3 linked regions of the Homo sapiens genome follow. The protein of the gene in region 1 purifies or fractionates together with the protein of each later gene. This does not show direct contact. Each region holds a gene or a part of one and is shown in the gene's direction. Other genes may lie near its edges. The genes, in order: VWC2L, TRMT2B and XPNPEP1.

The links.
Region 2: the proteins of VWC2L (region 1) and TRMT2B purify together in Homo sapiens (affinity purification with mass spectrometry; one large-scale study listed by BioGRID and IntAct). This does not show direct contact.
Region 3: the proteins of VWC2L (region 1) and XPNPEP1 purify together in Homo sapiens (affinity purification with mass spectrometry; one large-scale study listed by BioGRID and IntAct). This does not show direct contact.

Annotation. Positions count from the first base shown.
Region 1 is NC_000002.12:214,413,973-214,417,625, forward strand, and holds part of VWC2L (von Willebrand factor C domain-containing protein 2-like isoform 1 precursor), read left to right. Parts: intron 1-141; 5' UTR 142-221; coding exon 222-611; intron 612-3,653.
Region 2 is NC_000023.11:101,045,495-101,049,147, reverse strand, and holds part of TRMT2B (tRNA (uracil-5-)-methyltransferase homolog B), read left to right. Parts: intron 1-3,653. UniProt on the Homo sapiens protein: Mitochondrial S-adenosyl-L-methionine-dependent methyltransferase that catalyzes the formation of 5-methyl-uridine in tRNAs and 12S rRNA. Catalyzes the methylation of uridine at position 54 (m5U54) in all tRNAs.
Region 3 is NC_000010.11:109,885,507-109,889,159, reverse strand, and holds part of XPNPEP1 (xaa-Pro aminopeptidase 1), read left to right. Parts: intron 1-564; coding exon 565-657; intron 658-967; coding exon 968-1,111; intron 1,112-2,818; coding exon 2,819-2,914; intron 2,915-3,653. UniProt on the Homo sapiens protein: Metalloaminopeptidase that catalyzes the removal of a penultimate prolyl residue from the N-termini of peptides, such as Arg-Pro-Pro. Contributes to the degradation of bradykinin.

The DNA of each region.
Region 1 (3,653 bases):
CACAGATAGTTGCATGAACTTAGTCTATTTGAGGACTTAGTATCTTCAAATTGATCCCAAACAGTTTAAGAGCGTGGGCTTAAATGAATCTATCTTCACTTTATATATGTCAAATTATTCTTTTTAAATATTTATTTTCAGCCTACCCCTCTTGTATTCCCATGGAAGGAGCTGAGTATATTTAATATTAGGAGCACATCCAGAAGTCTTTGAAGAGGGGGATGGCTCTTCATATTCATGAAGCTTGCATACTTCTGTTGGTCATCCCTGGATTGGTCACCTCTGCTGCTATCAGTCATGAAGACTATCCTGCTGATGAAGGTGACCAGATCTCCAGTAATGACAATCTGATCTTTGATGACTATCGAGGGAAAGGGTGTGTCGATGACAGCGGCTTTGTATACAAGTTGGGAGAACGATTTTTCCCTGGGCATTCCAACTGTCCATGTGTCTGTGCTCTAGATGGACCTGTTTGCGACCAACCAGAATGCCCTAAAATTCACCCAAAGTGTACTAAAGTGGAACACAATGGATGCTGTCCTGAGTGCAAAGAAGTAAAAAACTTCTGTGAATATCACGGGAAAAATTACAAAATCTTGGAGGAATTTAAGGTATGCGTTACCCTCCATATTTATTGAAATATCAACTTTTCATACCACGTGCTTAGTACATTGCTACATTAAAGTCAGAGTTGGAAAAATGTACTTTAAAATTTCCCTTTAAATTATACAATTTGATTCTAATTACCATAAGTAGCACCATGGTCAACAAATGGCCAACTGGTTTGTTGATCATATTTGTTAAGTTGCACAATAACCTTTATTTTTTTTCCCAGAAGTATTTGGGGCATACCTAACACCTTTTATTTTTGCCCTTAAACATTTCTTCTCTGTTATTACAAAATATGTTTTCTGATGGGAACAATTTTGTGTATAGTGTATGTGTCTCCTAAATTAATTTTTTAATTGTGTCAGTTTTGTGTGTTGCTTATTAGCCTGTATTTGAAGTCATTTAACAATATAGTCTAGAATTATTTGTTTATTGTGTGGAAAAGCTACAGAGATATACTTCTTAGCTGTGGTCCTCATATTAAGAAAATGCATTGGGCCTACTTGTGGTCAAGCAAGATCCCCATTCTGTTCTCTGCTCGCTGGATTTTTTGCTTTCAGGATTCCACAGAGAACTGAATTTTTATCACAATCCATGTAAAGAGTAGTAAAAAAGACTGTAATTTTTTTCAGCCTACCTGGTATTTTTTAGTTTTTCTTTTACGCTTGCGTCATATTTTCAAAGTAGCTTAGAGTTCATTTTTATCCCTTATTGAACTTTCTTTTCCCCAATGGCTAGTTTTAATTGGGATATCCTACAAGCCTGATCTGAACCCTGAAGGTATGAATACATGAAAAATGTCCACCTTAAATGTAATGGCAGTTTGTGCCTGGAGTGTCTGTCATACTGATGGCTTTATATAAAATGTTCCCATTTCATCTAACCAAGTTCTGTGATGAGGTGCTCAGAACCTTAGAGGTAAAAGCAGATATAGCTAGTTTTCAGTGTGGGTGTTTATGTATGAGAGAAGACATTTCCATTATTAGCACTGACCCAACTTCTCTCACCACAAGGGTCAAATGGTGCCAGAAATCAGTATGTAGAAAAAAGGTCTCAACTGATCATCATTAGCATAATCTGTGTATTCATAGTTAATTGTATTTAGTTCATTATTAACCTGGAATGAACCAGGTTAGCGGTTCAAGCCAGTTCTGATTTACCCAAGAATACCCAGTCATTGGAACTAGATTCCTTAGGACAAAAGGGAAATTTTAATTGTGACATTCAACTTCCTTAGACATGTTATTCTCGACTTTTGTCTTTCGTGTATTATTTTATTGCACAAAATTAAGAAGTAAAAGCATGAGAGTCTAGTAAAAGTATCATTGTTGACACCAAATAATAGTTGAGAGTAGAGTACATTTATTAATGGTTTTATGATCTCTAAAATATTGTATATATTTTGACATTACCTATTTTTAATGTCATCTTAATGGAAGTAAGTAGAAGTACTCAACACACTTGATTCTAGCAGTCATATCACCCTTTTCTAACCTGCATTTATATCTAGACTAGAATACAAAAGGGTATTGTAGGAACAGCGTTTCATAACTAGCACAAATAAAAACATAAGTTTCTGAGATTTATATAATTTGGTAATCTGTATTTAATAAAGAAAATATTGTCTAACTTAACTCACTATTGAAAATGCTATAGTTTTCCCTCTATTTATTAGATTTTACTACAAAGATAATAACTATGTTACCATGTCAAACAATATAGAGGTATTTAAAGAAAAAGTTAATAATTTCTGTACCCCTTCTCGTTATAACCCTACTATAATCTAATTAATCCCTACTACTTCTTTCCTAATGTATGATCCATTAATATGCACAGCTTTTTCACCTGGCTTTTTGTGTCATAAAATTTTTGATGTGATTTTTAAAATAATAGATATCACTTTTTTTAACAAGAATTTAGAGTCATAAAGAGTTTTAGAGACTATATAGGGCAAATGTGTCAGAATGAGAAACTGAGACCAAAAAAGTATAAATTACTTATCCAAAATTGTCAAGTTATTTATCTTAATTCTAAATGCTGCCATTCTAACATACTATATGATCTCTCAAAGCAGTTTGTCACTAAGGTCAGATAGACTTGGATTCGAATCCCAAATTCATCACTTGGATATAAATTTTTGAATGGAGTTCTTAAACTTTTTGATCCATAGTGGTATTGACCATAAAATAGCCATTGTAATAATCACTTTCCTTAGGAGGAGAGGTTGGAAATTCTTAATAACATATAATTTCTCTGAAGTCACTAACCTTGTGATGACGGGTACACAATAGGTATTAAATAAATGATTGTCCCCTCCTTCTTAACTCTAATATCCAGGGATTTACTCTAAATTCTAAATTCCTCTATGGCTTTGCCTACATTTTATAATGAAAGTTCAACTTTAAAAGACTTTCAAATGAAGAATTCTCATACCTTTTTAAAATGCTCTACTTATCCCTATGAACCATACAACTCTAAGTAAATATTAGCCATAATCTGTCATCTTGATTCTCTTCCAACTCAGCTTGCAAGGAACAAGTCATTAATTATTAAAGATGCATAAAACTTTCATATAATAATGTTGATATGTCAATTAGGGAGGTTGTATTATGAGATAATCTTCACATAAATATATTCATCCAACAAGCATTTATCAGACCGTTCAGTAGATAAGATACTGTAGACGTACTTACAATTGAAAGTAGGATATCTAGAAACCAAAATCTCTGCTCACAAGAAAGACATGATCGATGTGAAGAGAGAAGGGGGAAAAAGCAGGTAAAAGTTAAGTATATGATTATGAAATCCCAATATAACTCCCAAGAGATTGTGATGGCAGAAGCTTATCAAAATAGTATGAGGCTTGGTTAAGCAAGAGATTTGTCTTCAGGATGCTAACCCTATACATCTTGTAGAGCTGCCTGTTCTTCAAGAAGTACTTGAAATTGATCTGGGAAGACTGAAATTCCAAAGACGAAACTGCCAGAGCAAAATCAGAGATTGGGATGAATACAGTCTGCAAAGAGGAGGGAGATGGGTATAAT
Region 2 (3,653 bases), on another chromosome or scaffold:
GCAGGCACTCATGTAGAGGGTCAGAAAATTTATGTGTCTATGTGTGTGTATGTTGTTTTTTAAATTTCCCACAAACTGTACTCATCCTCACAGCACTTGCATGCATTGTTACATCTTGTCAGTTTTGCAGGTTGGAGATGTTGAGGCATGAAGAAACCAAGTGATATGCTTTGAATCAGAGCCTAAGAAAGAGCAGTGACACATGTTGAGCACTGGCTGTCTTAAGCACAGTCCTGAACATGTCATATATTTGAATGCTTTTAATTCTCACCAAAACTGTGAAAGATAGGTGTTCTCAGTCCTATTTGTATAGATGGTGACACTGAGATTCATAGCACTTAAGTATTAATATCTTACCTAAAACCGCATAGCTAGTGAGAAGTAGAGCTGGGATTAGAACATGGCTCCAGCCGAATGTGGTGGCTCATGCCTGTAATGCCAACACTTTGGGATGCTGAGGCAGGTGGATCACTTGAGGTCAGGAGTTCGAGACCAGGGTGGCCAACATGATGAGACCCCCGTCTCTACTAAAAATACAAAAATTAGTTGGGTGCAATGGGGGGTGCCTGTAATCCCAGCTACGCGGGAGGCTGAGGCAGGAGAATGGCTTGACACAGGCAGCGGAGGTTGCGGTGAGCCAAGAATGTGCCACTGCACTCCAGCCTGGGCGACAAAGTAAGACTGTTTTTTTTTTTTTGGTAACAAAGAACATGGCTTCAAAGCCTGTGTTCTTAACTGTACTGTCTTGTTGCTTCTTGATGGGGGTGGGTGTTGAGTGGAGAGTGCTATCATTAACACCTGAACTCTGGGCCAGCTTAAGTGTATATTCTGTAAAAAATTTGAAATCCCCCAAATGTCACATGCTATGACAGTCACTTTCTTTAGTACTTTGTAATCATACAAAATGGTGTATGGGCTAAATATTGCAGCACCTATGTCGTCATCCTCCATGTTGCTTATTGATCATGGAATGTTAATTTAGCAATAATTTTCTCTGTGTGTGTGTGTGTGTGTGTGTGTGTGTGTGTGTGTGTATGTGTATAAATGTAAAATTCTGAATTAGGCTATGACTTAACATTGGGATGAAATCCAAGGTAGAGCTTAAGGGCAAAATACAAATTTCACAGCAGGTTAACAGAATGTCAGGCCAAGTCCATTCAAGTGTCCCAAGTACTTAAAATAGGTGCTTATGGCTGGGCATGGTGGCTCATGCCTATAATTCCAGCACTTTGGGAGGCCGAGACAGGAGGATTGGTTGAGTCCAGGAGTTTGAGACCAGCCTGGAAAACATAGCGAGACCCCATCTCTGTTTTTTTTTTTTAAGATGGAGTCTCGCTCTGTCGCCCAGTTCTGCTCTGTTGCAATCTTGGCCTACTGCAATCTCTGCCTCCCAGGTTCAAGCAGTTCTCTTGCCTCAGCCTCCCGAGTAGTGGGATTACAGGTGCCTGCCACCATGCCCGGCTAATTTTAGTATTTTTAGTAGAGACGGGGTTTCACCATGTTGGCTAGGCTGGTCTCGAACTCCTGACCTCAGGTGATCCGCCTACCTTGGCCTCCCAAAGTGCTGGGATTACAGGTGTGAGCCACCATGCCCGGCCAACCCCATCTCATTTTTAAAACAAACAAAAACCAGGTGCTTTCACAGCAATGTAGACATAACATAGAGTCCTGTGTTGCAAAGGGAGGCCCTCTACTTGTGTTCTCAATGTCACCCATGTTAGCTCTTCCAGCTTTTGTCTCATAGTTACTCCCATTGTTCCTTCTCCCACTCCCCTCTTTCAGTGTTGCCACCTCTACTCAGTTAAATACTGTCTTTAAACACGTCATGACAGTTACTAGTAATGCTTACTGAAGATATTTTGCCAGGTGTTGGACTCTGCTCAGAGTTTCACAAACATACCTGTCTAATCTTCTGCTAAGTACTTTTTTTTTTTTTTTTTCGAGACAGGGTCTTGCTTTGTCACCCAGGCTGGAGCATGATCATGGCTGCCTGGGCACAAGTGATGCTACCACCTCAGCCTCCCGAGTAGCTGGGACTACAGGCGCATGCCACCATGCCTGGCTAATATTTTAATTTTTGTAGAGACGGGGTCTCACTGTGTTGTCCAGGCTGGTCTCAAACTCCTGGGCTCAAGTAGTCCTCTTCTCTTGGCCTCCCAAAGTGCTGGGATTATAGGCGTGAGCCACACTGTACCTGGCCTAAGTACTTTTTTTTGCTGGGGGGACGGAGTTTCGCTCTTGTTGCCCAGGCTGGAGTGCAATGGCGTGATCTCGGCTCACCGCAACCTCCACCTCCCGGGTTCAAGCGATTCTCCTGCCTCAGCCTCCTGAGTAGGTGGGATTACAGGCATGCGCCACCACATCTGGCTAATTTTGTATTTTTAGTAGAGACAGGGTTTCTCCATGTTGGTCAGGTTGGTCTTGAACTCCTGACCTCAGGTGATCCGCCTGCCTCGGCCTCCCAAAGTGCTGAGATTATAGGTGTGAGCCACTGTGACCAGCAGCCTAGGTACTTTTTATTAATTATCTTCAACTCTTACAACCACTATATAAGGTAGATACCATTGTCTCCATTTTACAAGTGAAAAAAAGGAATGTCAGAGAGAATGATTAACTTGGCAACGGCCACCTAGGTAGTGAGTGGTGGGGCCAGTGGACCACCCAGGACAGGTCTGGCTGTCTGACTAGGATCTGTACTCCTAAAATCTCAAAGCCTTCATATGTCCCCACTGCCTGCCACTTCCCATTGCCTCCTTTCCCTTCTTTCTTTTGTCCCAGACCTAATGGATGTGATACTATCTTCCTCAGAGGTATATGCCTTGGCCTCCAGGCCTCCAGGCTCTCTTGACTCTCCTTCTGAGACACCAGCATCTCTTCTTGCTCTCCAAATATTACCTTTCTCCCTGATACAGTCATTGGCCTTTTGCTCTTGCCTTTACTCAAGGTACTTTAAAGAAAATTTTGTTTTGATTGATTGATTGATTTTTTTTTTTTTTTTTTTTGAGACTGAGTCTCACTATATCGCCCAGGCTGGAGTGCAGTGGTGTGATCTCAGCTCATTGCAACCTCCACCTCCCGGGTTGAAGCGATTCTCATGCCTCAGCCTCCCGAGTAGCTGGGACTACAGGTACATGCCACCATGCCCGGCTAATTTTTGTATTTTTAGTAGAGGCGGGGTTTCACCATGTTGGCCAGCCTGGTCTCGAACTGCTGACCTCAAGTGATCTGCCCCCTCAGCTTCCCAAAGTGCTGGGATTACAGGTGTGAGCCACTGCGCCTGGCCTGTTTTTTTTATTTTTATTTTCTTAATTTTTAAAATTTTTGTTATATTATTAATATTATTATTTTTTGAGATGGAGTCTCACTCTGTCACCTAGGCTGGAATGCAGTGGTGTTATCTAGGCTCACTGCAACCTCTACCTACTGGGTTCAAGTGATTCTCCTGCCTTAGCCTCCTGAGTAGCTGGGATTACAGGTGCCCACCACCATGCCTAGCTAATTTTTTTTGTTTGTTTGTTTGTTTGTTTGTTTTGTATTTTTAGTAGAGACAAGATTTCACTATGTTGCTCAGGCTGGTCTCGAACTCCTGACCTCAGGTGATCTGCCTGCCTCAGTCTCCCAAAGTGCTGGGATTACAAGCGTGAGCCACCACA
Region 3 (3,653 bases), on another chromosome or scaffold:
TCGGAAAGATCTCTTTGCTGCCAAGACTTGTGCTTAGCCCTCTATTCAGAGGCTGGTTATGGGGCAGCGGCCTTCTCTTGGCCACCCTGCCCTTGCAGATGAGGGGCGGGCACTGGGAGCATGTTATCACCTTACCTGGTATGTGATATGTGGGAGTCTCCCAGTTCCCAGACTTCACCAAATCACTGCCCAAATTCTCATCAAGTGACCAGTAGTGGGGAAGTGACTGAACGCTGAGGAGACAATCTTTGTGGTGACGCCATGTGTGTACGTGGCAGTGATCCCCAAGATATTTTTACAAGGGGTCAAGTGAAAAATCATACTTTTTTCCCTTCTGTCTCACCCTTGTCTTATGTTTTTCATACACAAAAACTTACACTTCTCCCTCTCTGTAGCCTTCCAGGATTAAGGGAGGTTCAGATTTTCTAAGTCCTGTCAATCCACTTTAAAGAAGCTGCTTAATAAAGACCCTGCTATCATGATGTTAGAGAATTGTATCTTTCTGGTGGGATAATGAGCGTGGGCCCACTGGGAATTGTTTCTTATCATTTCTTCCCCCTGTAGGTCTGAAGGACACACCAACTCAGGAAGACTGGCTGGTGAGTGTGCTTCCTGAAGGATCCAGGGTTGGTGTGGACCCCTTGATCATTCCTACAGGTAAGTGAGCTTGGTCCCTTTCTGCTTGGGTAAGGAAGTGGCTTCTAGATTCCCCTCCATTCTCCTCATTTGCTTGTGGGGTGTGGAGCACTGGGGGGCTCAGCATGACTGATTTTATAGTAGAGGTCAGGGTGAAGAGAAGAGTTCCACTGGTGGTGAAGATGTGCTTTTACAGTTCCTCATCCTGCACACCCAGCTCTGGGCCATGGCAGGACCACCTTTCTGAAGGTTCTGGACTTTCAAGGCCCTGCTCCCTGCCCTGCTGCAATGGGCGTTCGGCTCATGGCTGGGCCACAATGTGTCTCCTCAGATTATTGGAAGAAAATGGCCAAAGTTCTGAGAAGTGCCGGCCATCACCTCATTCCTGTCAAGGAGAACCTCGTTGACAAAATCTGGACAGACCGTCCTGAGCGCCCTTGCAAGCCTCTCCTCACACTGGGCCTGGATTACACAGGTCAGAATCAATGGTTCTGCCCAGCAGGGCCCCTGCCATTGTCCCCCCACCTCTTGCTATTGTCTCCAGCCTCGTCCTCCGAATCCAAGTCGAGTTGGAGCTGACAGGAGGATTTTGCCCTACTCTGCCCCAGTGGGATATTTGAAGAAGCAGGAGCTTTGTTTGTTTCCACTGTTGCCACCTACTTGCCACTTAGTTTGGCTTTGGTTATTTTCGCAAAGCTCGTTTGGGTGGCTTTTTGGGTGCTGCTGAAAAGACTGAGTTTTTTTTATCCACTCAGCTGCTAACTGCCACTCGAACGTATTTGATATTGGAAATAGAGCATAGAGGTTTCTAGGTTCCATTTCCCTTCTTATGTCAGCATTTGTAGATTTACCTTCCTAGGCCTTTGTCCTCCATCTTGTACCTTCTGCTTTAGAGGCTTTGGGGTGTGGGTGTGTTTCCTTGGCCTGTGCGATAGTGATGGGTAAGCAGCATGTTCTCTGAACCATTGTGTGGATTTATGAAGCAGTGAGGGGGCAGAGAGAGAGGCCTGGAGGTGGGGCTGCAGGGGAGGGCGTCTTGCTGTAGAAACAGAGGTAGATGGGGGATGGCTGTGGAATGTAGGCAGATTGCCCAGAGGGGTCCTGGGAAGAAAGCGTGACAGCCTAGATTCTGGGCCAAGTTTTAAACAGCATTCCCGAACTGATCTTCAGTGCAGCCCTGGGTGTGGGGGCAGCCCCAGCCTGCTTTCTTGTGTGACATCCTCACCAGAGGGGTATTGCGGAATGGGGAGGATGGGTCCAGTGAGTGGCCCAGGGTCAGCTAAATATTTTCCATCAGCGTGGTTTGAAGTTTTTTTCACTAGAGCAGAAGCTCTGACTTGTTGCTTATAGGAGAGGGGAGAGCAAATGTTGCTGTTCAGTACACATTTGGGTGCCTACTATCTGCAGGATGCTGTGCGAGGTGCTGAGTGAATAAGACAGATGCCCACCCTGCTCACAGGTGGCTGTTCCCTGAGTTATGAATGCTGCCCTGGTAGGGTGGTTGTGGTGGCAATGGGGTGAGCTCCTCTAGCACCACGATTTCATCTTGCAGAGCAACAGAGAGGCCTTGGCAGTGTCTGAAAGGGCAAGTGTGATTTGGAAGTGGTAATCACAGTGAGTCAGACTACAGGGAATTCCTAGGTCTTAGCACTGAAAGGCAAGTCTTGCAGCCCCCAGGAACATCAAGTGGTGGGTGCTGTTCCCCTGACCCCTGAGACTGGGTGAGTTCCCTTTGCTGGGTAGTGTGTTGATATAGGTCCCTGTGTGTCCCCTGTTGCATCAGTATTTACAGTAGTGTGTTAATTGCTGGTTTAATTATCTGTCTTCCCTTCTATATTGTAAGCCCCATGAAGACAGGGACTGGGTCTGGCTCAGATCTGTAACCACAGTGACCAGCAGAGTGCCTGGCACGTATCTATGCCTGGCAGATCTAGATGTTACACAGGCATTTGTGGGATGCGTAAATGAATGAATTTTACTGGTGAGGCAATCAAGGCTCACGACAGTCAAGTGGCTTGGACACTTCTTGTATAGGGCTTGAATCCAGGCCTCCTGCCTGTTTAAGTAGCGTGCTCCTGTAAGAAATGGTGCTGATTAAAGATGTTTAGGGTAGGTTCTTTCACTGGGTTCCTACTGCTTTCTGGGACCAGGGCTGGAGTTAAAGCACATTTGTTTCTTGCAGGCATCTCCTGGAAGGACAAGGTTGCAGACCTTCGGTTGAAAATGGCTGAGAGGAACGTCATGTGGTTTGTGGTCACTGCCTTGGATGAGATTGCGTGTGAGTGCTCTGGTTTCGCTGTTTGGGCATGTTACCCGATCTCTCCTTTGGGTCTCTGGGTATCTGTGTGTTCATGCCATTCAACTTTCTGAGTGGCCAGGGAATAAGAAGAAGACTACGTCACCAAATGGGTATAGGAGATGCCAACTAGGATGAAGGAGAAAGAATTACAGGGAGCTGGGGAGGGGAGTGAGGCTTGTCCAGAGCAGTATTACAGCTGGGTGATGCCCACCTCTGGCCAGTCCCTCAGGACCATGGCACCTCTGAGGAAGGGCATTTCCTACAAATATTTTATGTCTGTCAGCCTCTGTAGGTGTAGAAGTGGGCTCATAGGAGAGGCCTTCTTTCTTTACACTTGTCCTGTGGTTTCCTAAGGTCTTTATAGTGAGAATGTTCTGGGAGCATTTCTACCTCAGAAAACTAGGAACTAAAAGTTCCTCCCCAAGCCCTTTGATGTAATAGTAGTTTCTCAGTCTTTGGACCTTAACCCACCTTCATGCAGTTGTTCAGCACCTTCTTTCATCTAAAACCTGACGGAATCTGGTTGAACCTTCCTGTCCTGTCTTCTGGTTTCTGAGTGGATTTGACCCAGGGCAACTGAGAAGAGGCACTGCTTTATCTTTTTGCCTTCTCACTAGAGAATGAGACCCTACTGCAGTGTCCTCTCTCTTCAGTCCCTGCATCTTCCATCCACAAAACATTGTCAAGTGTGTCAGTGACTTACATCCCTAATTAACTT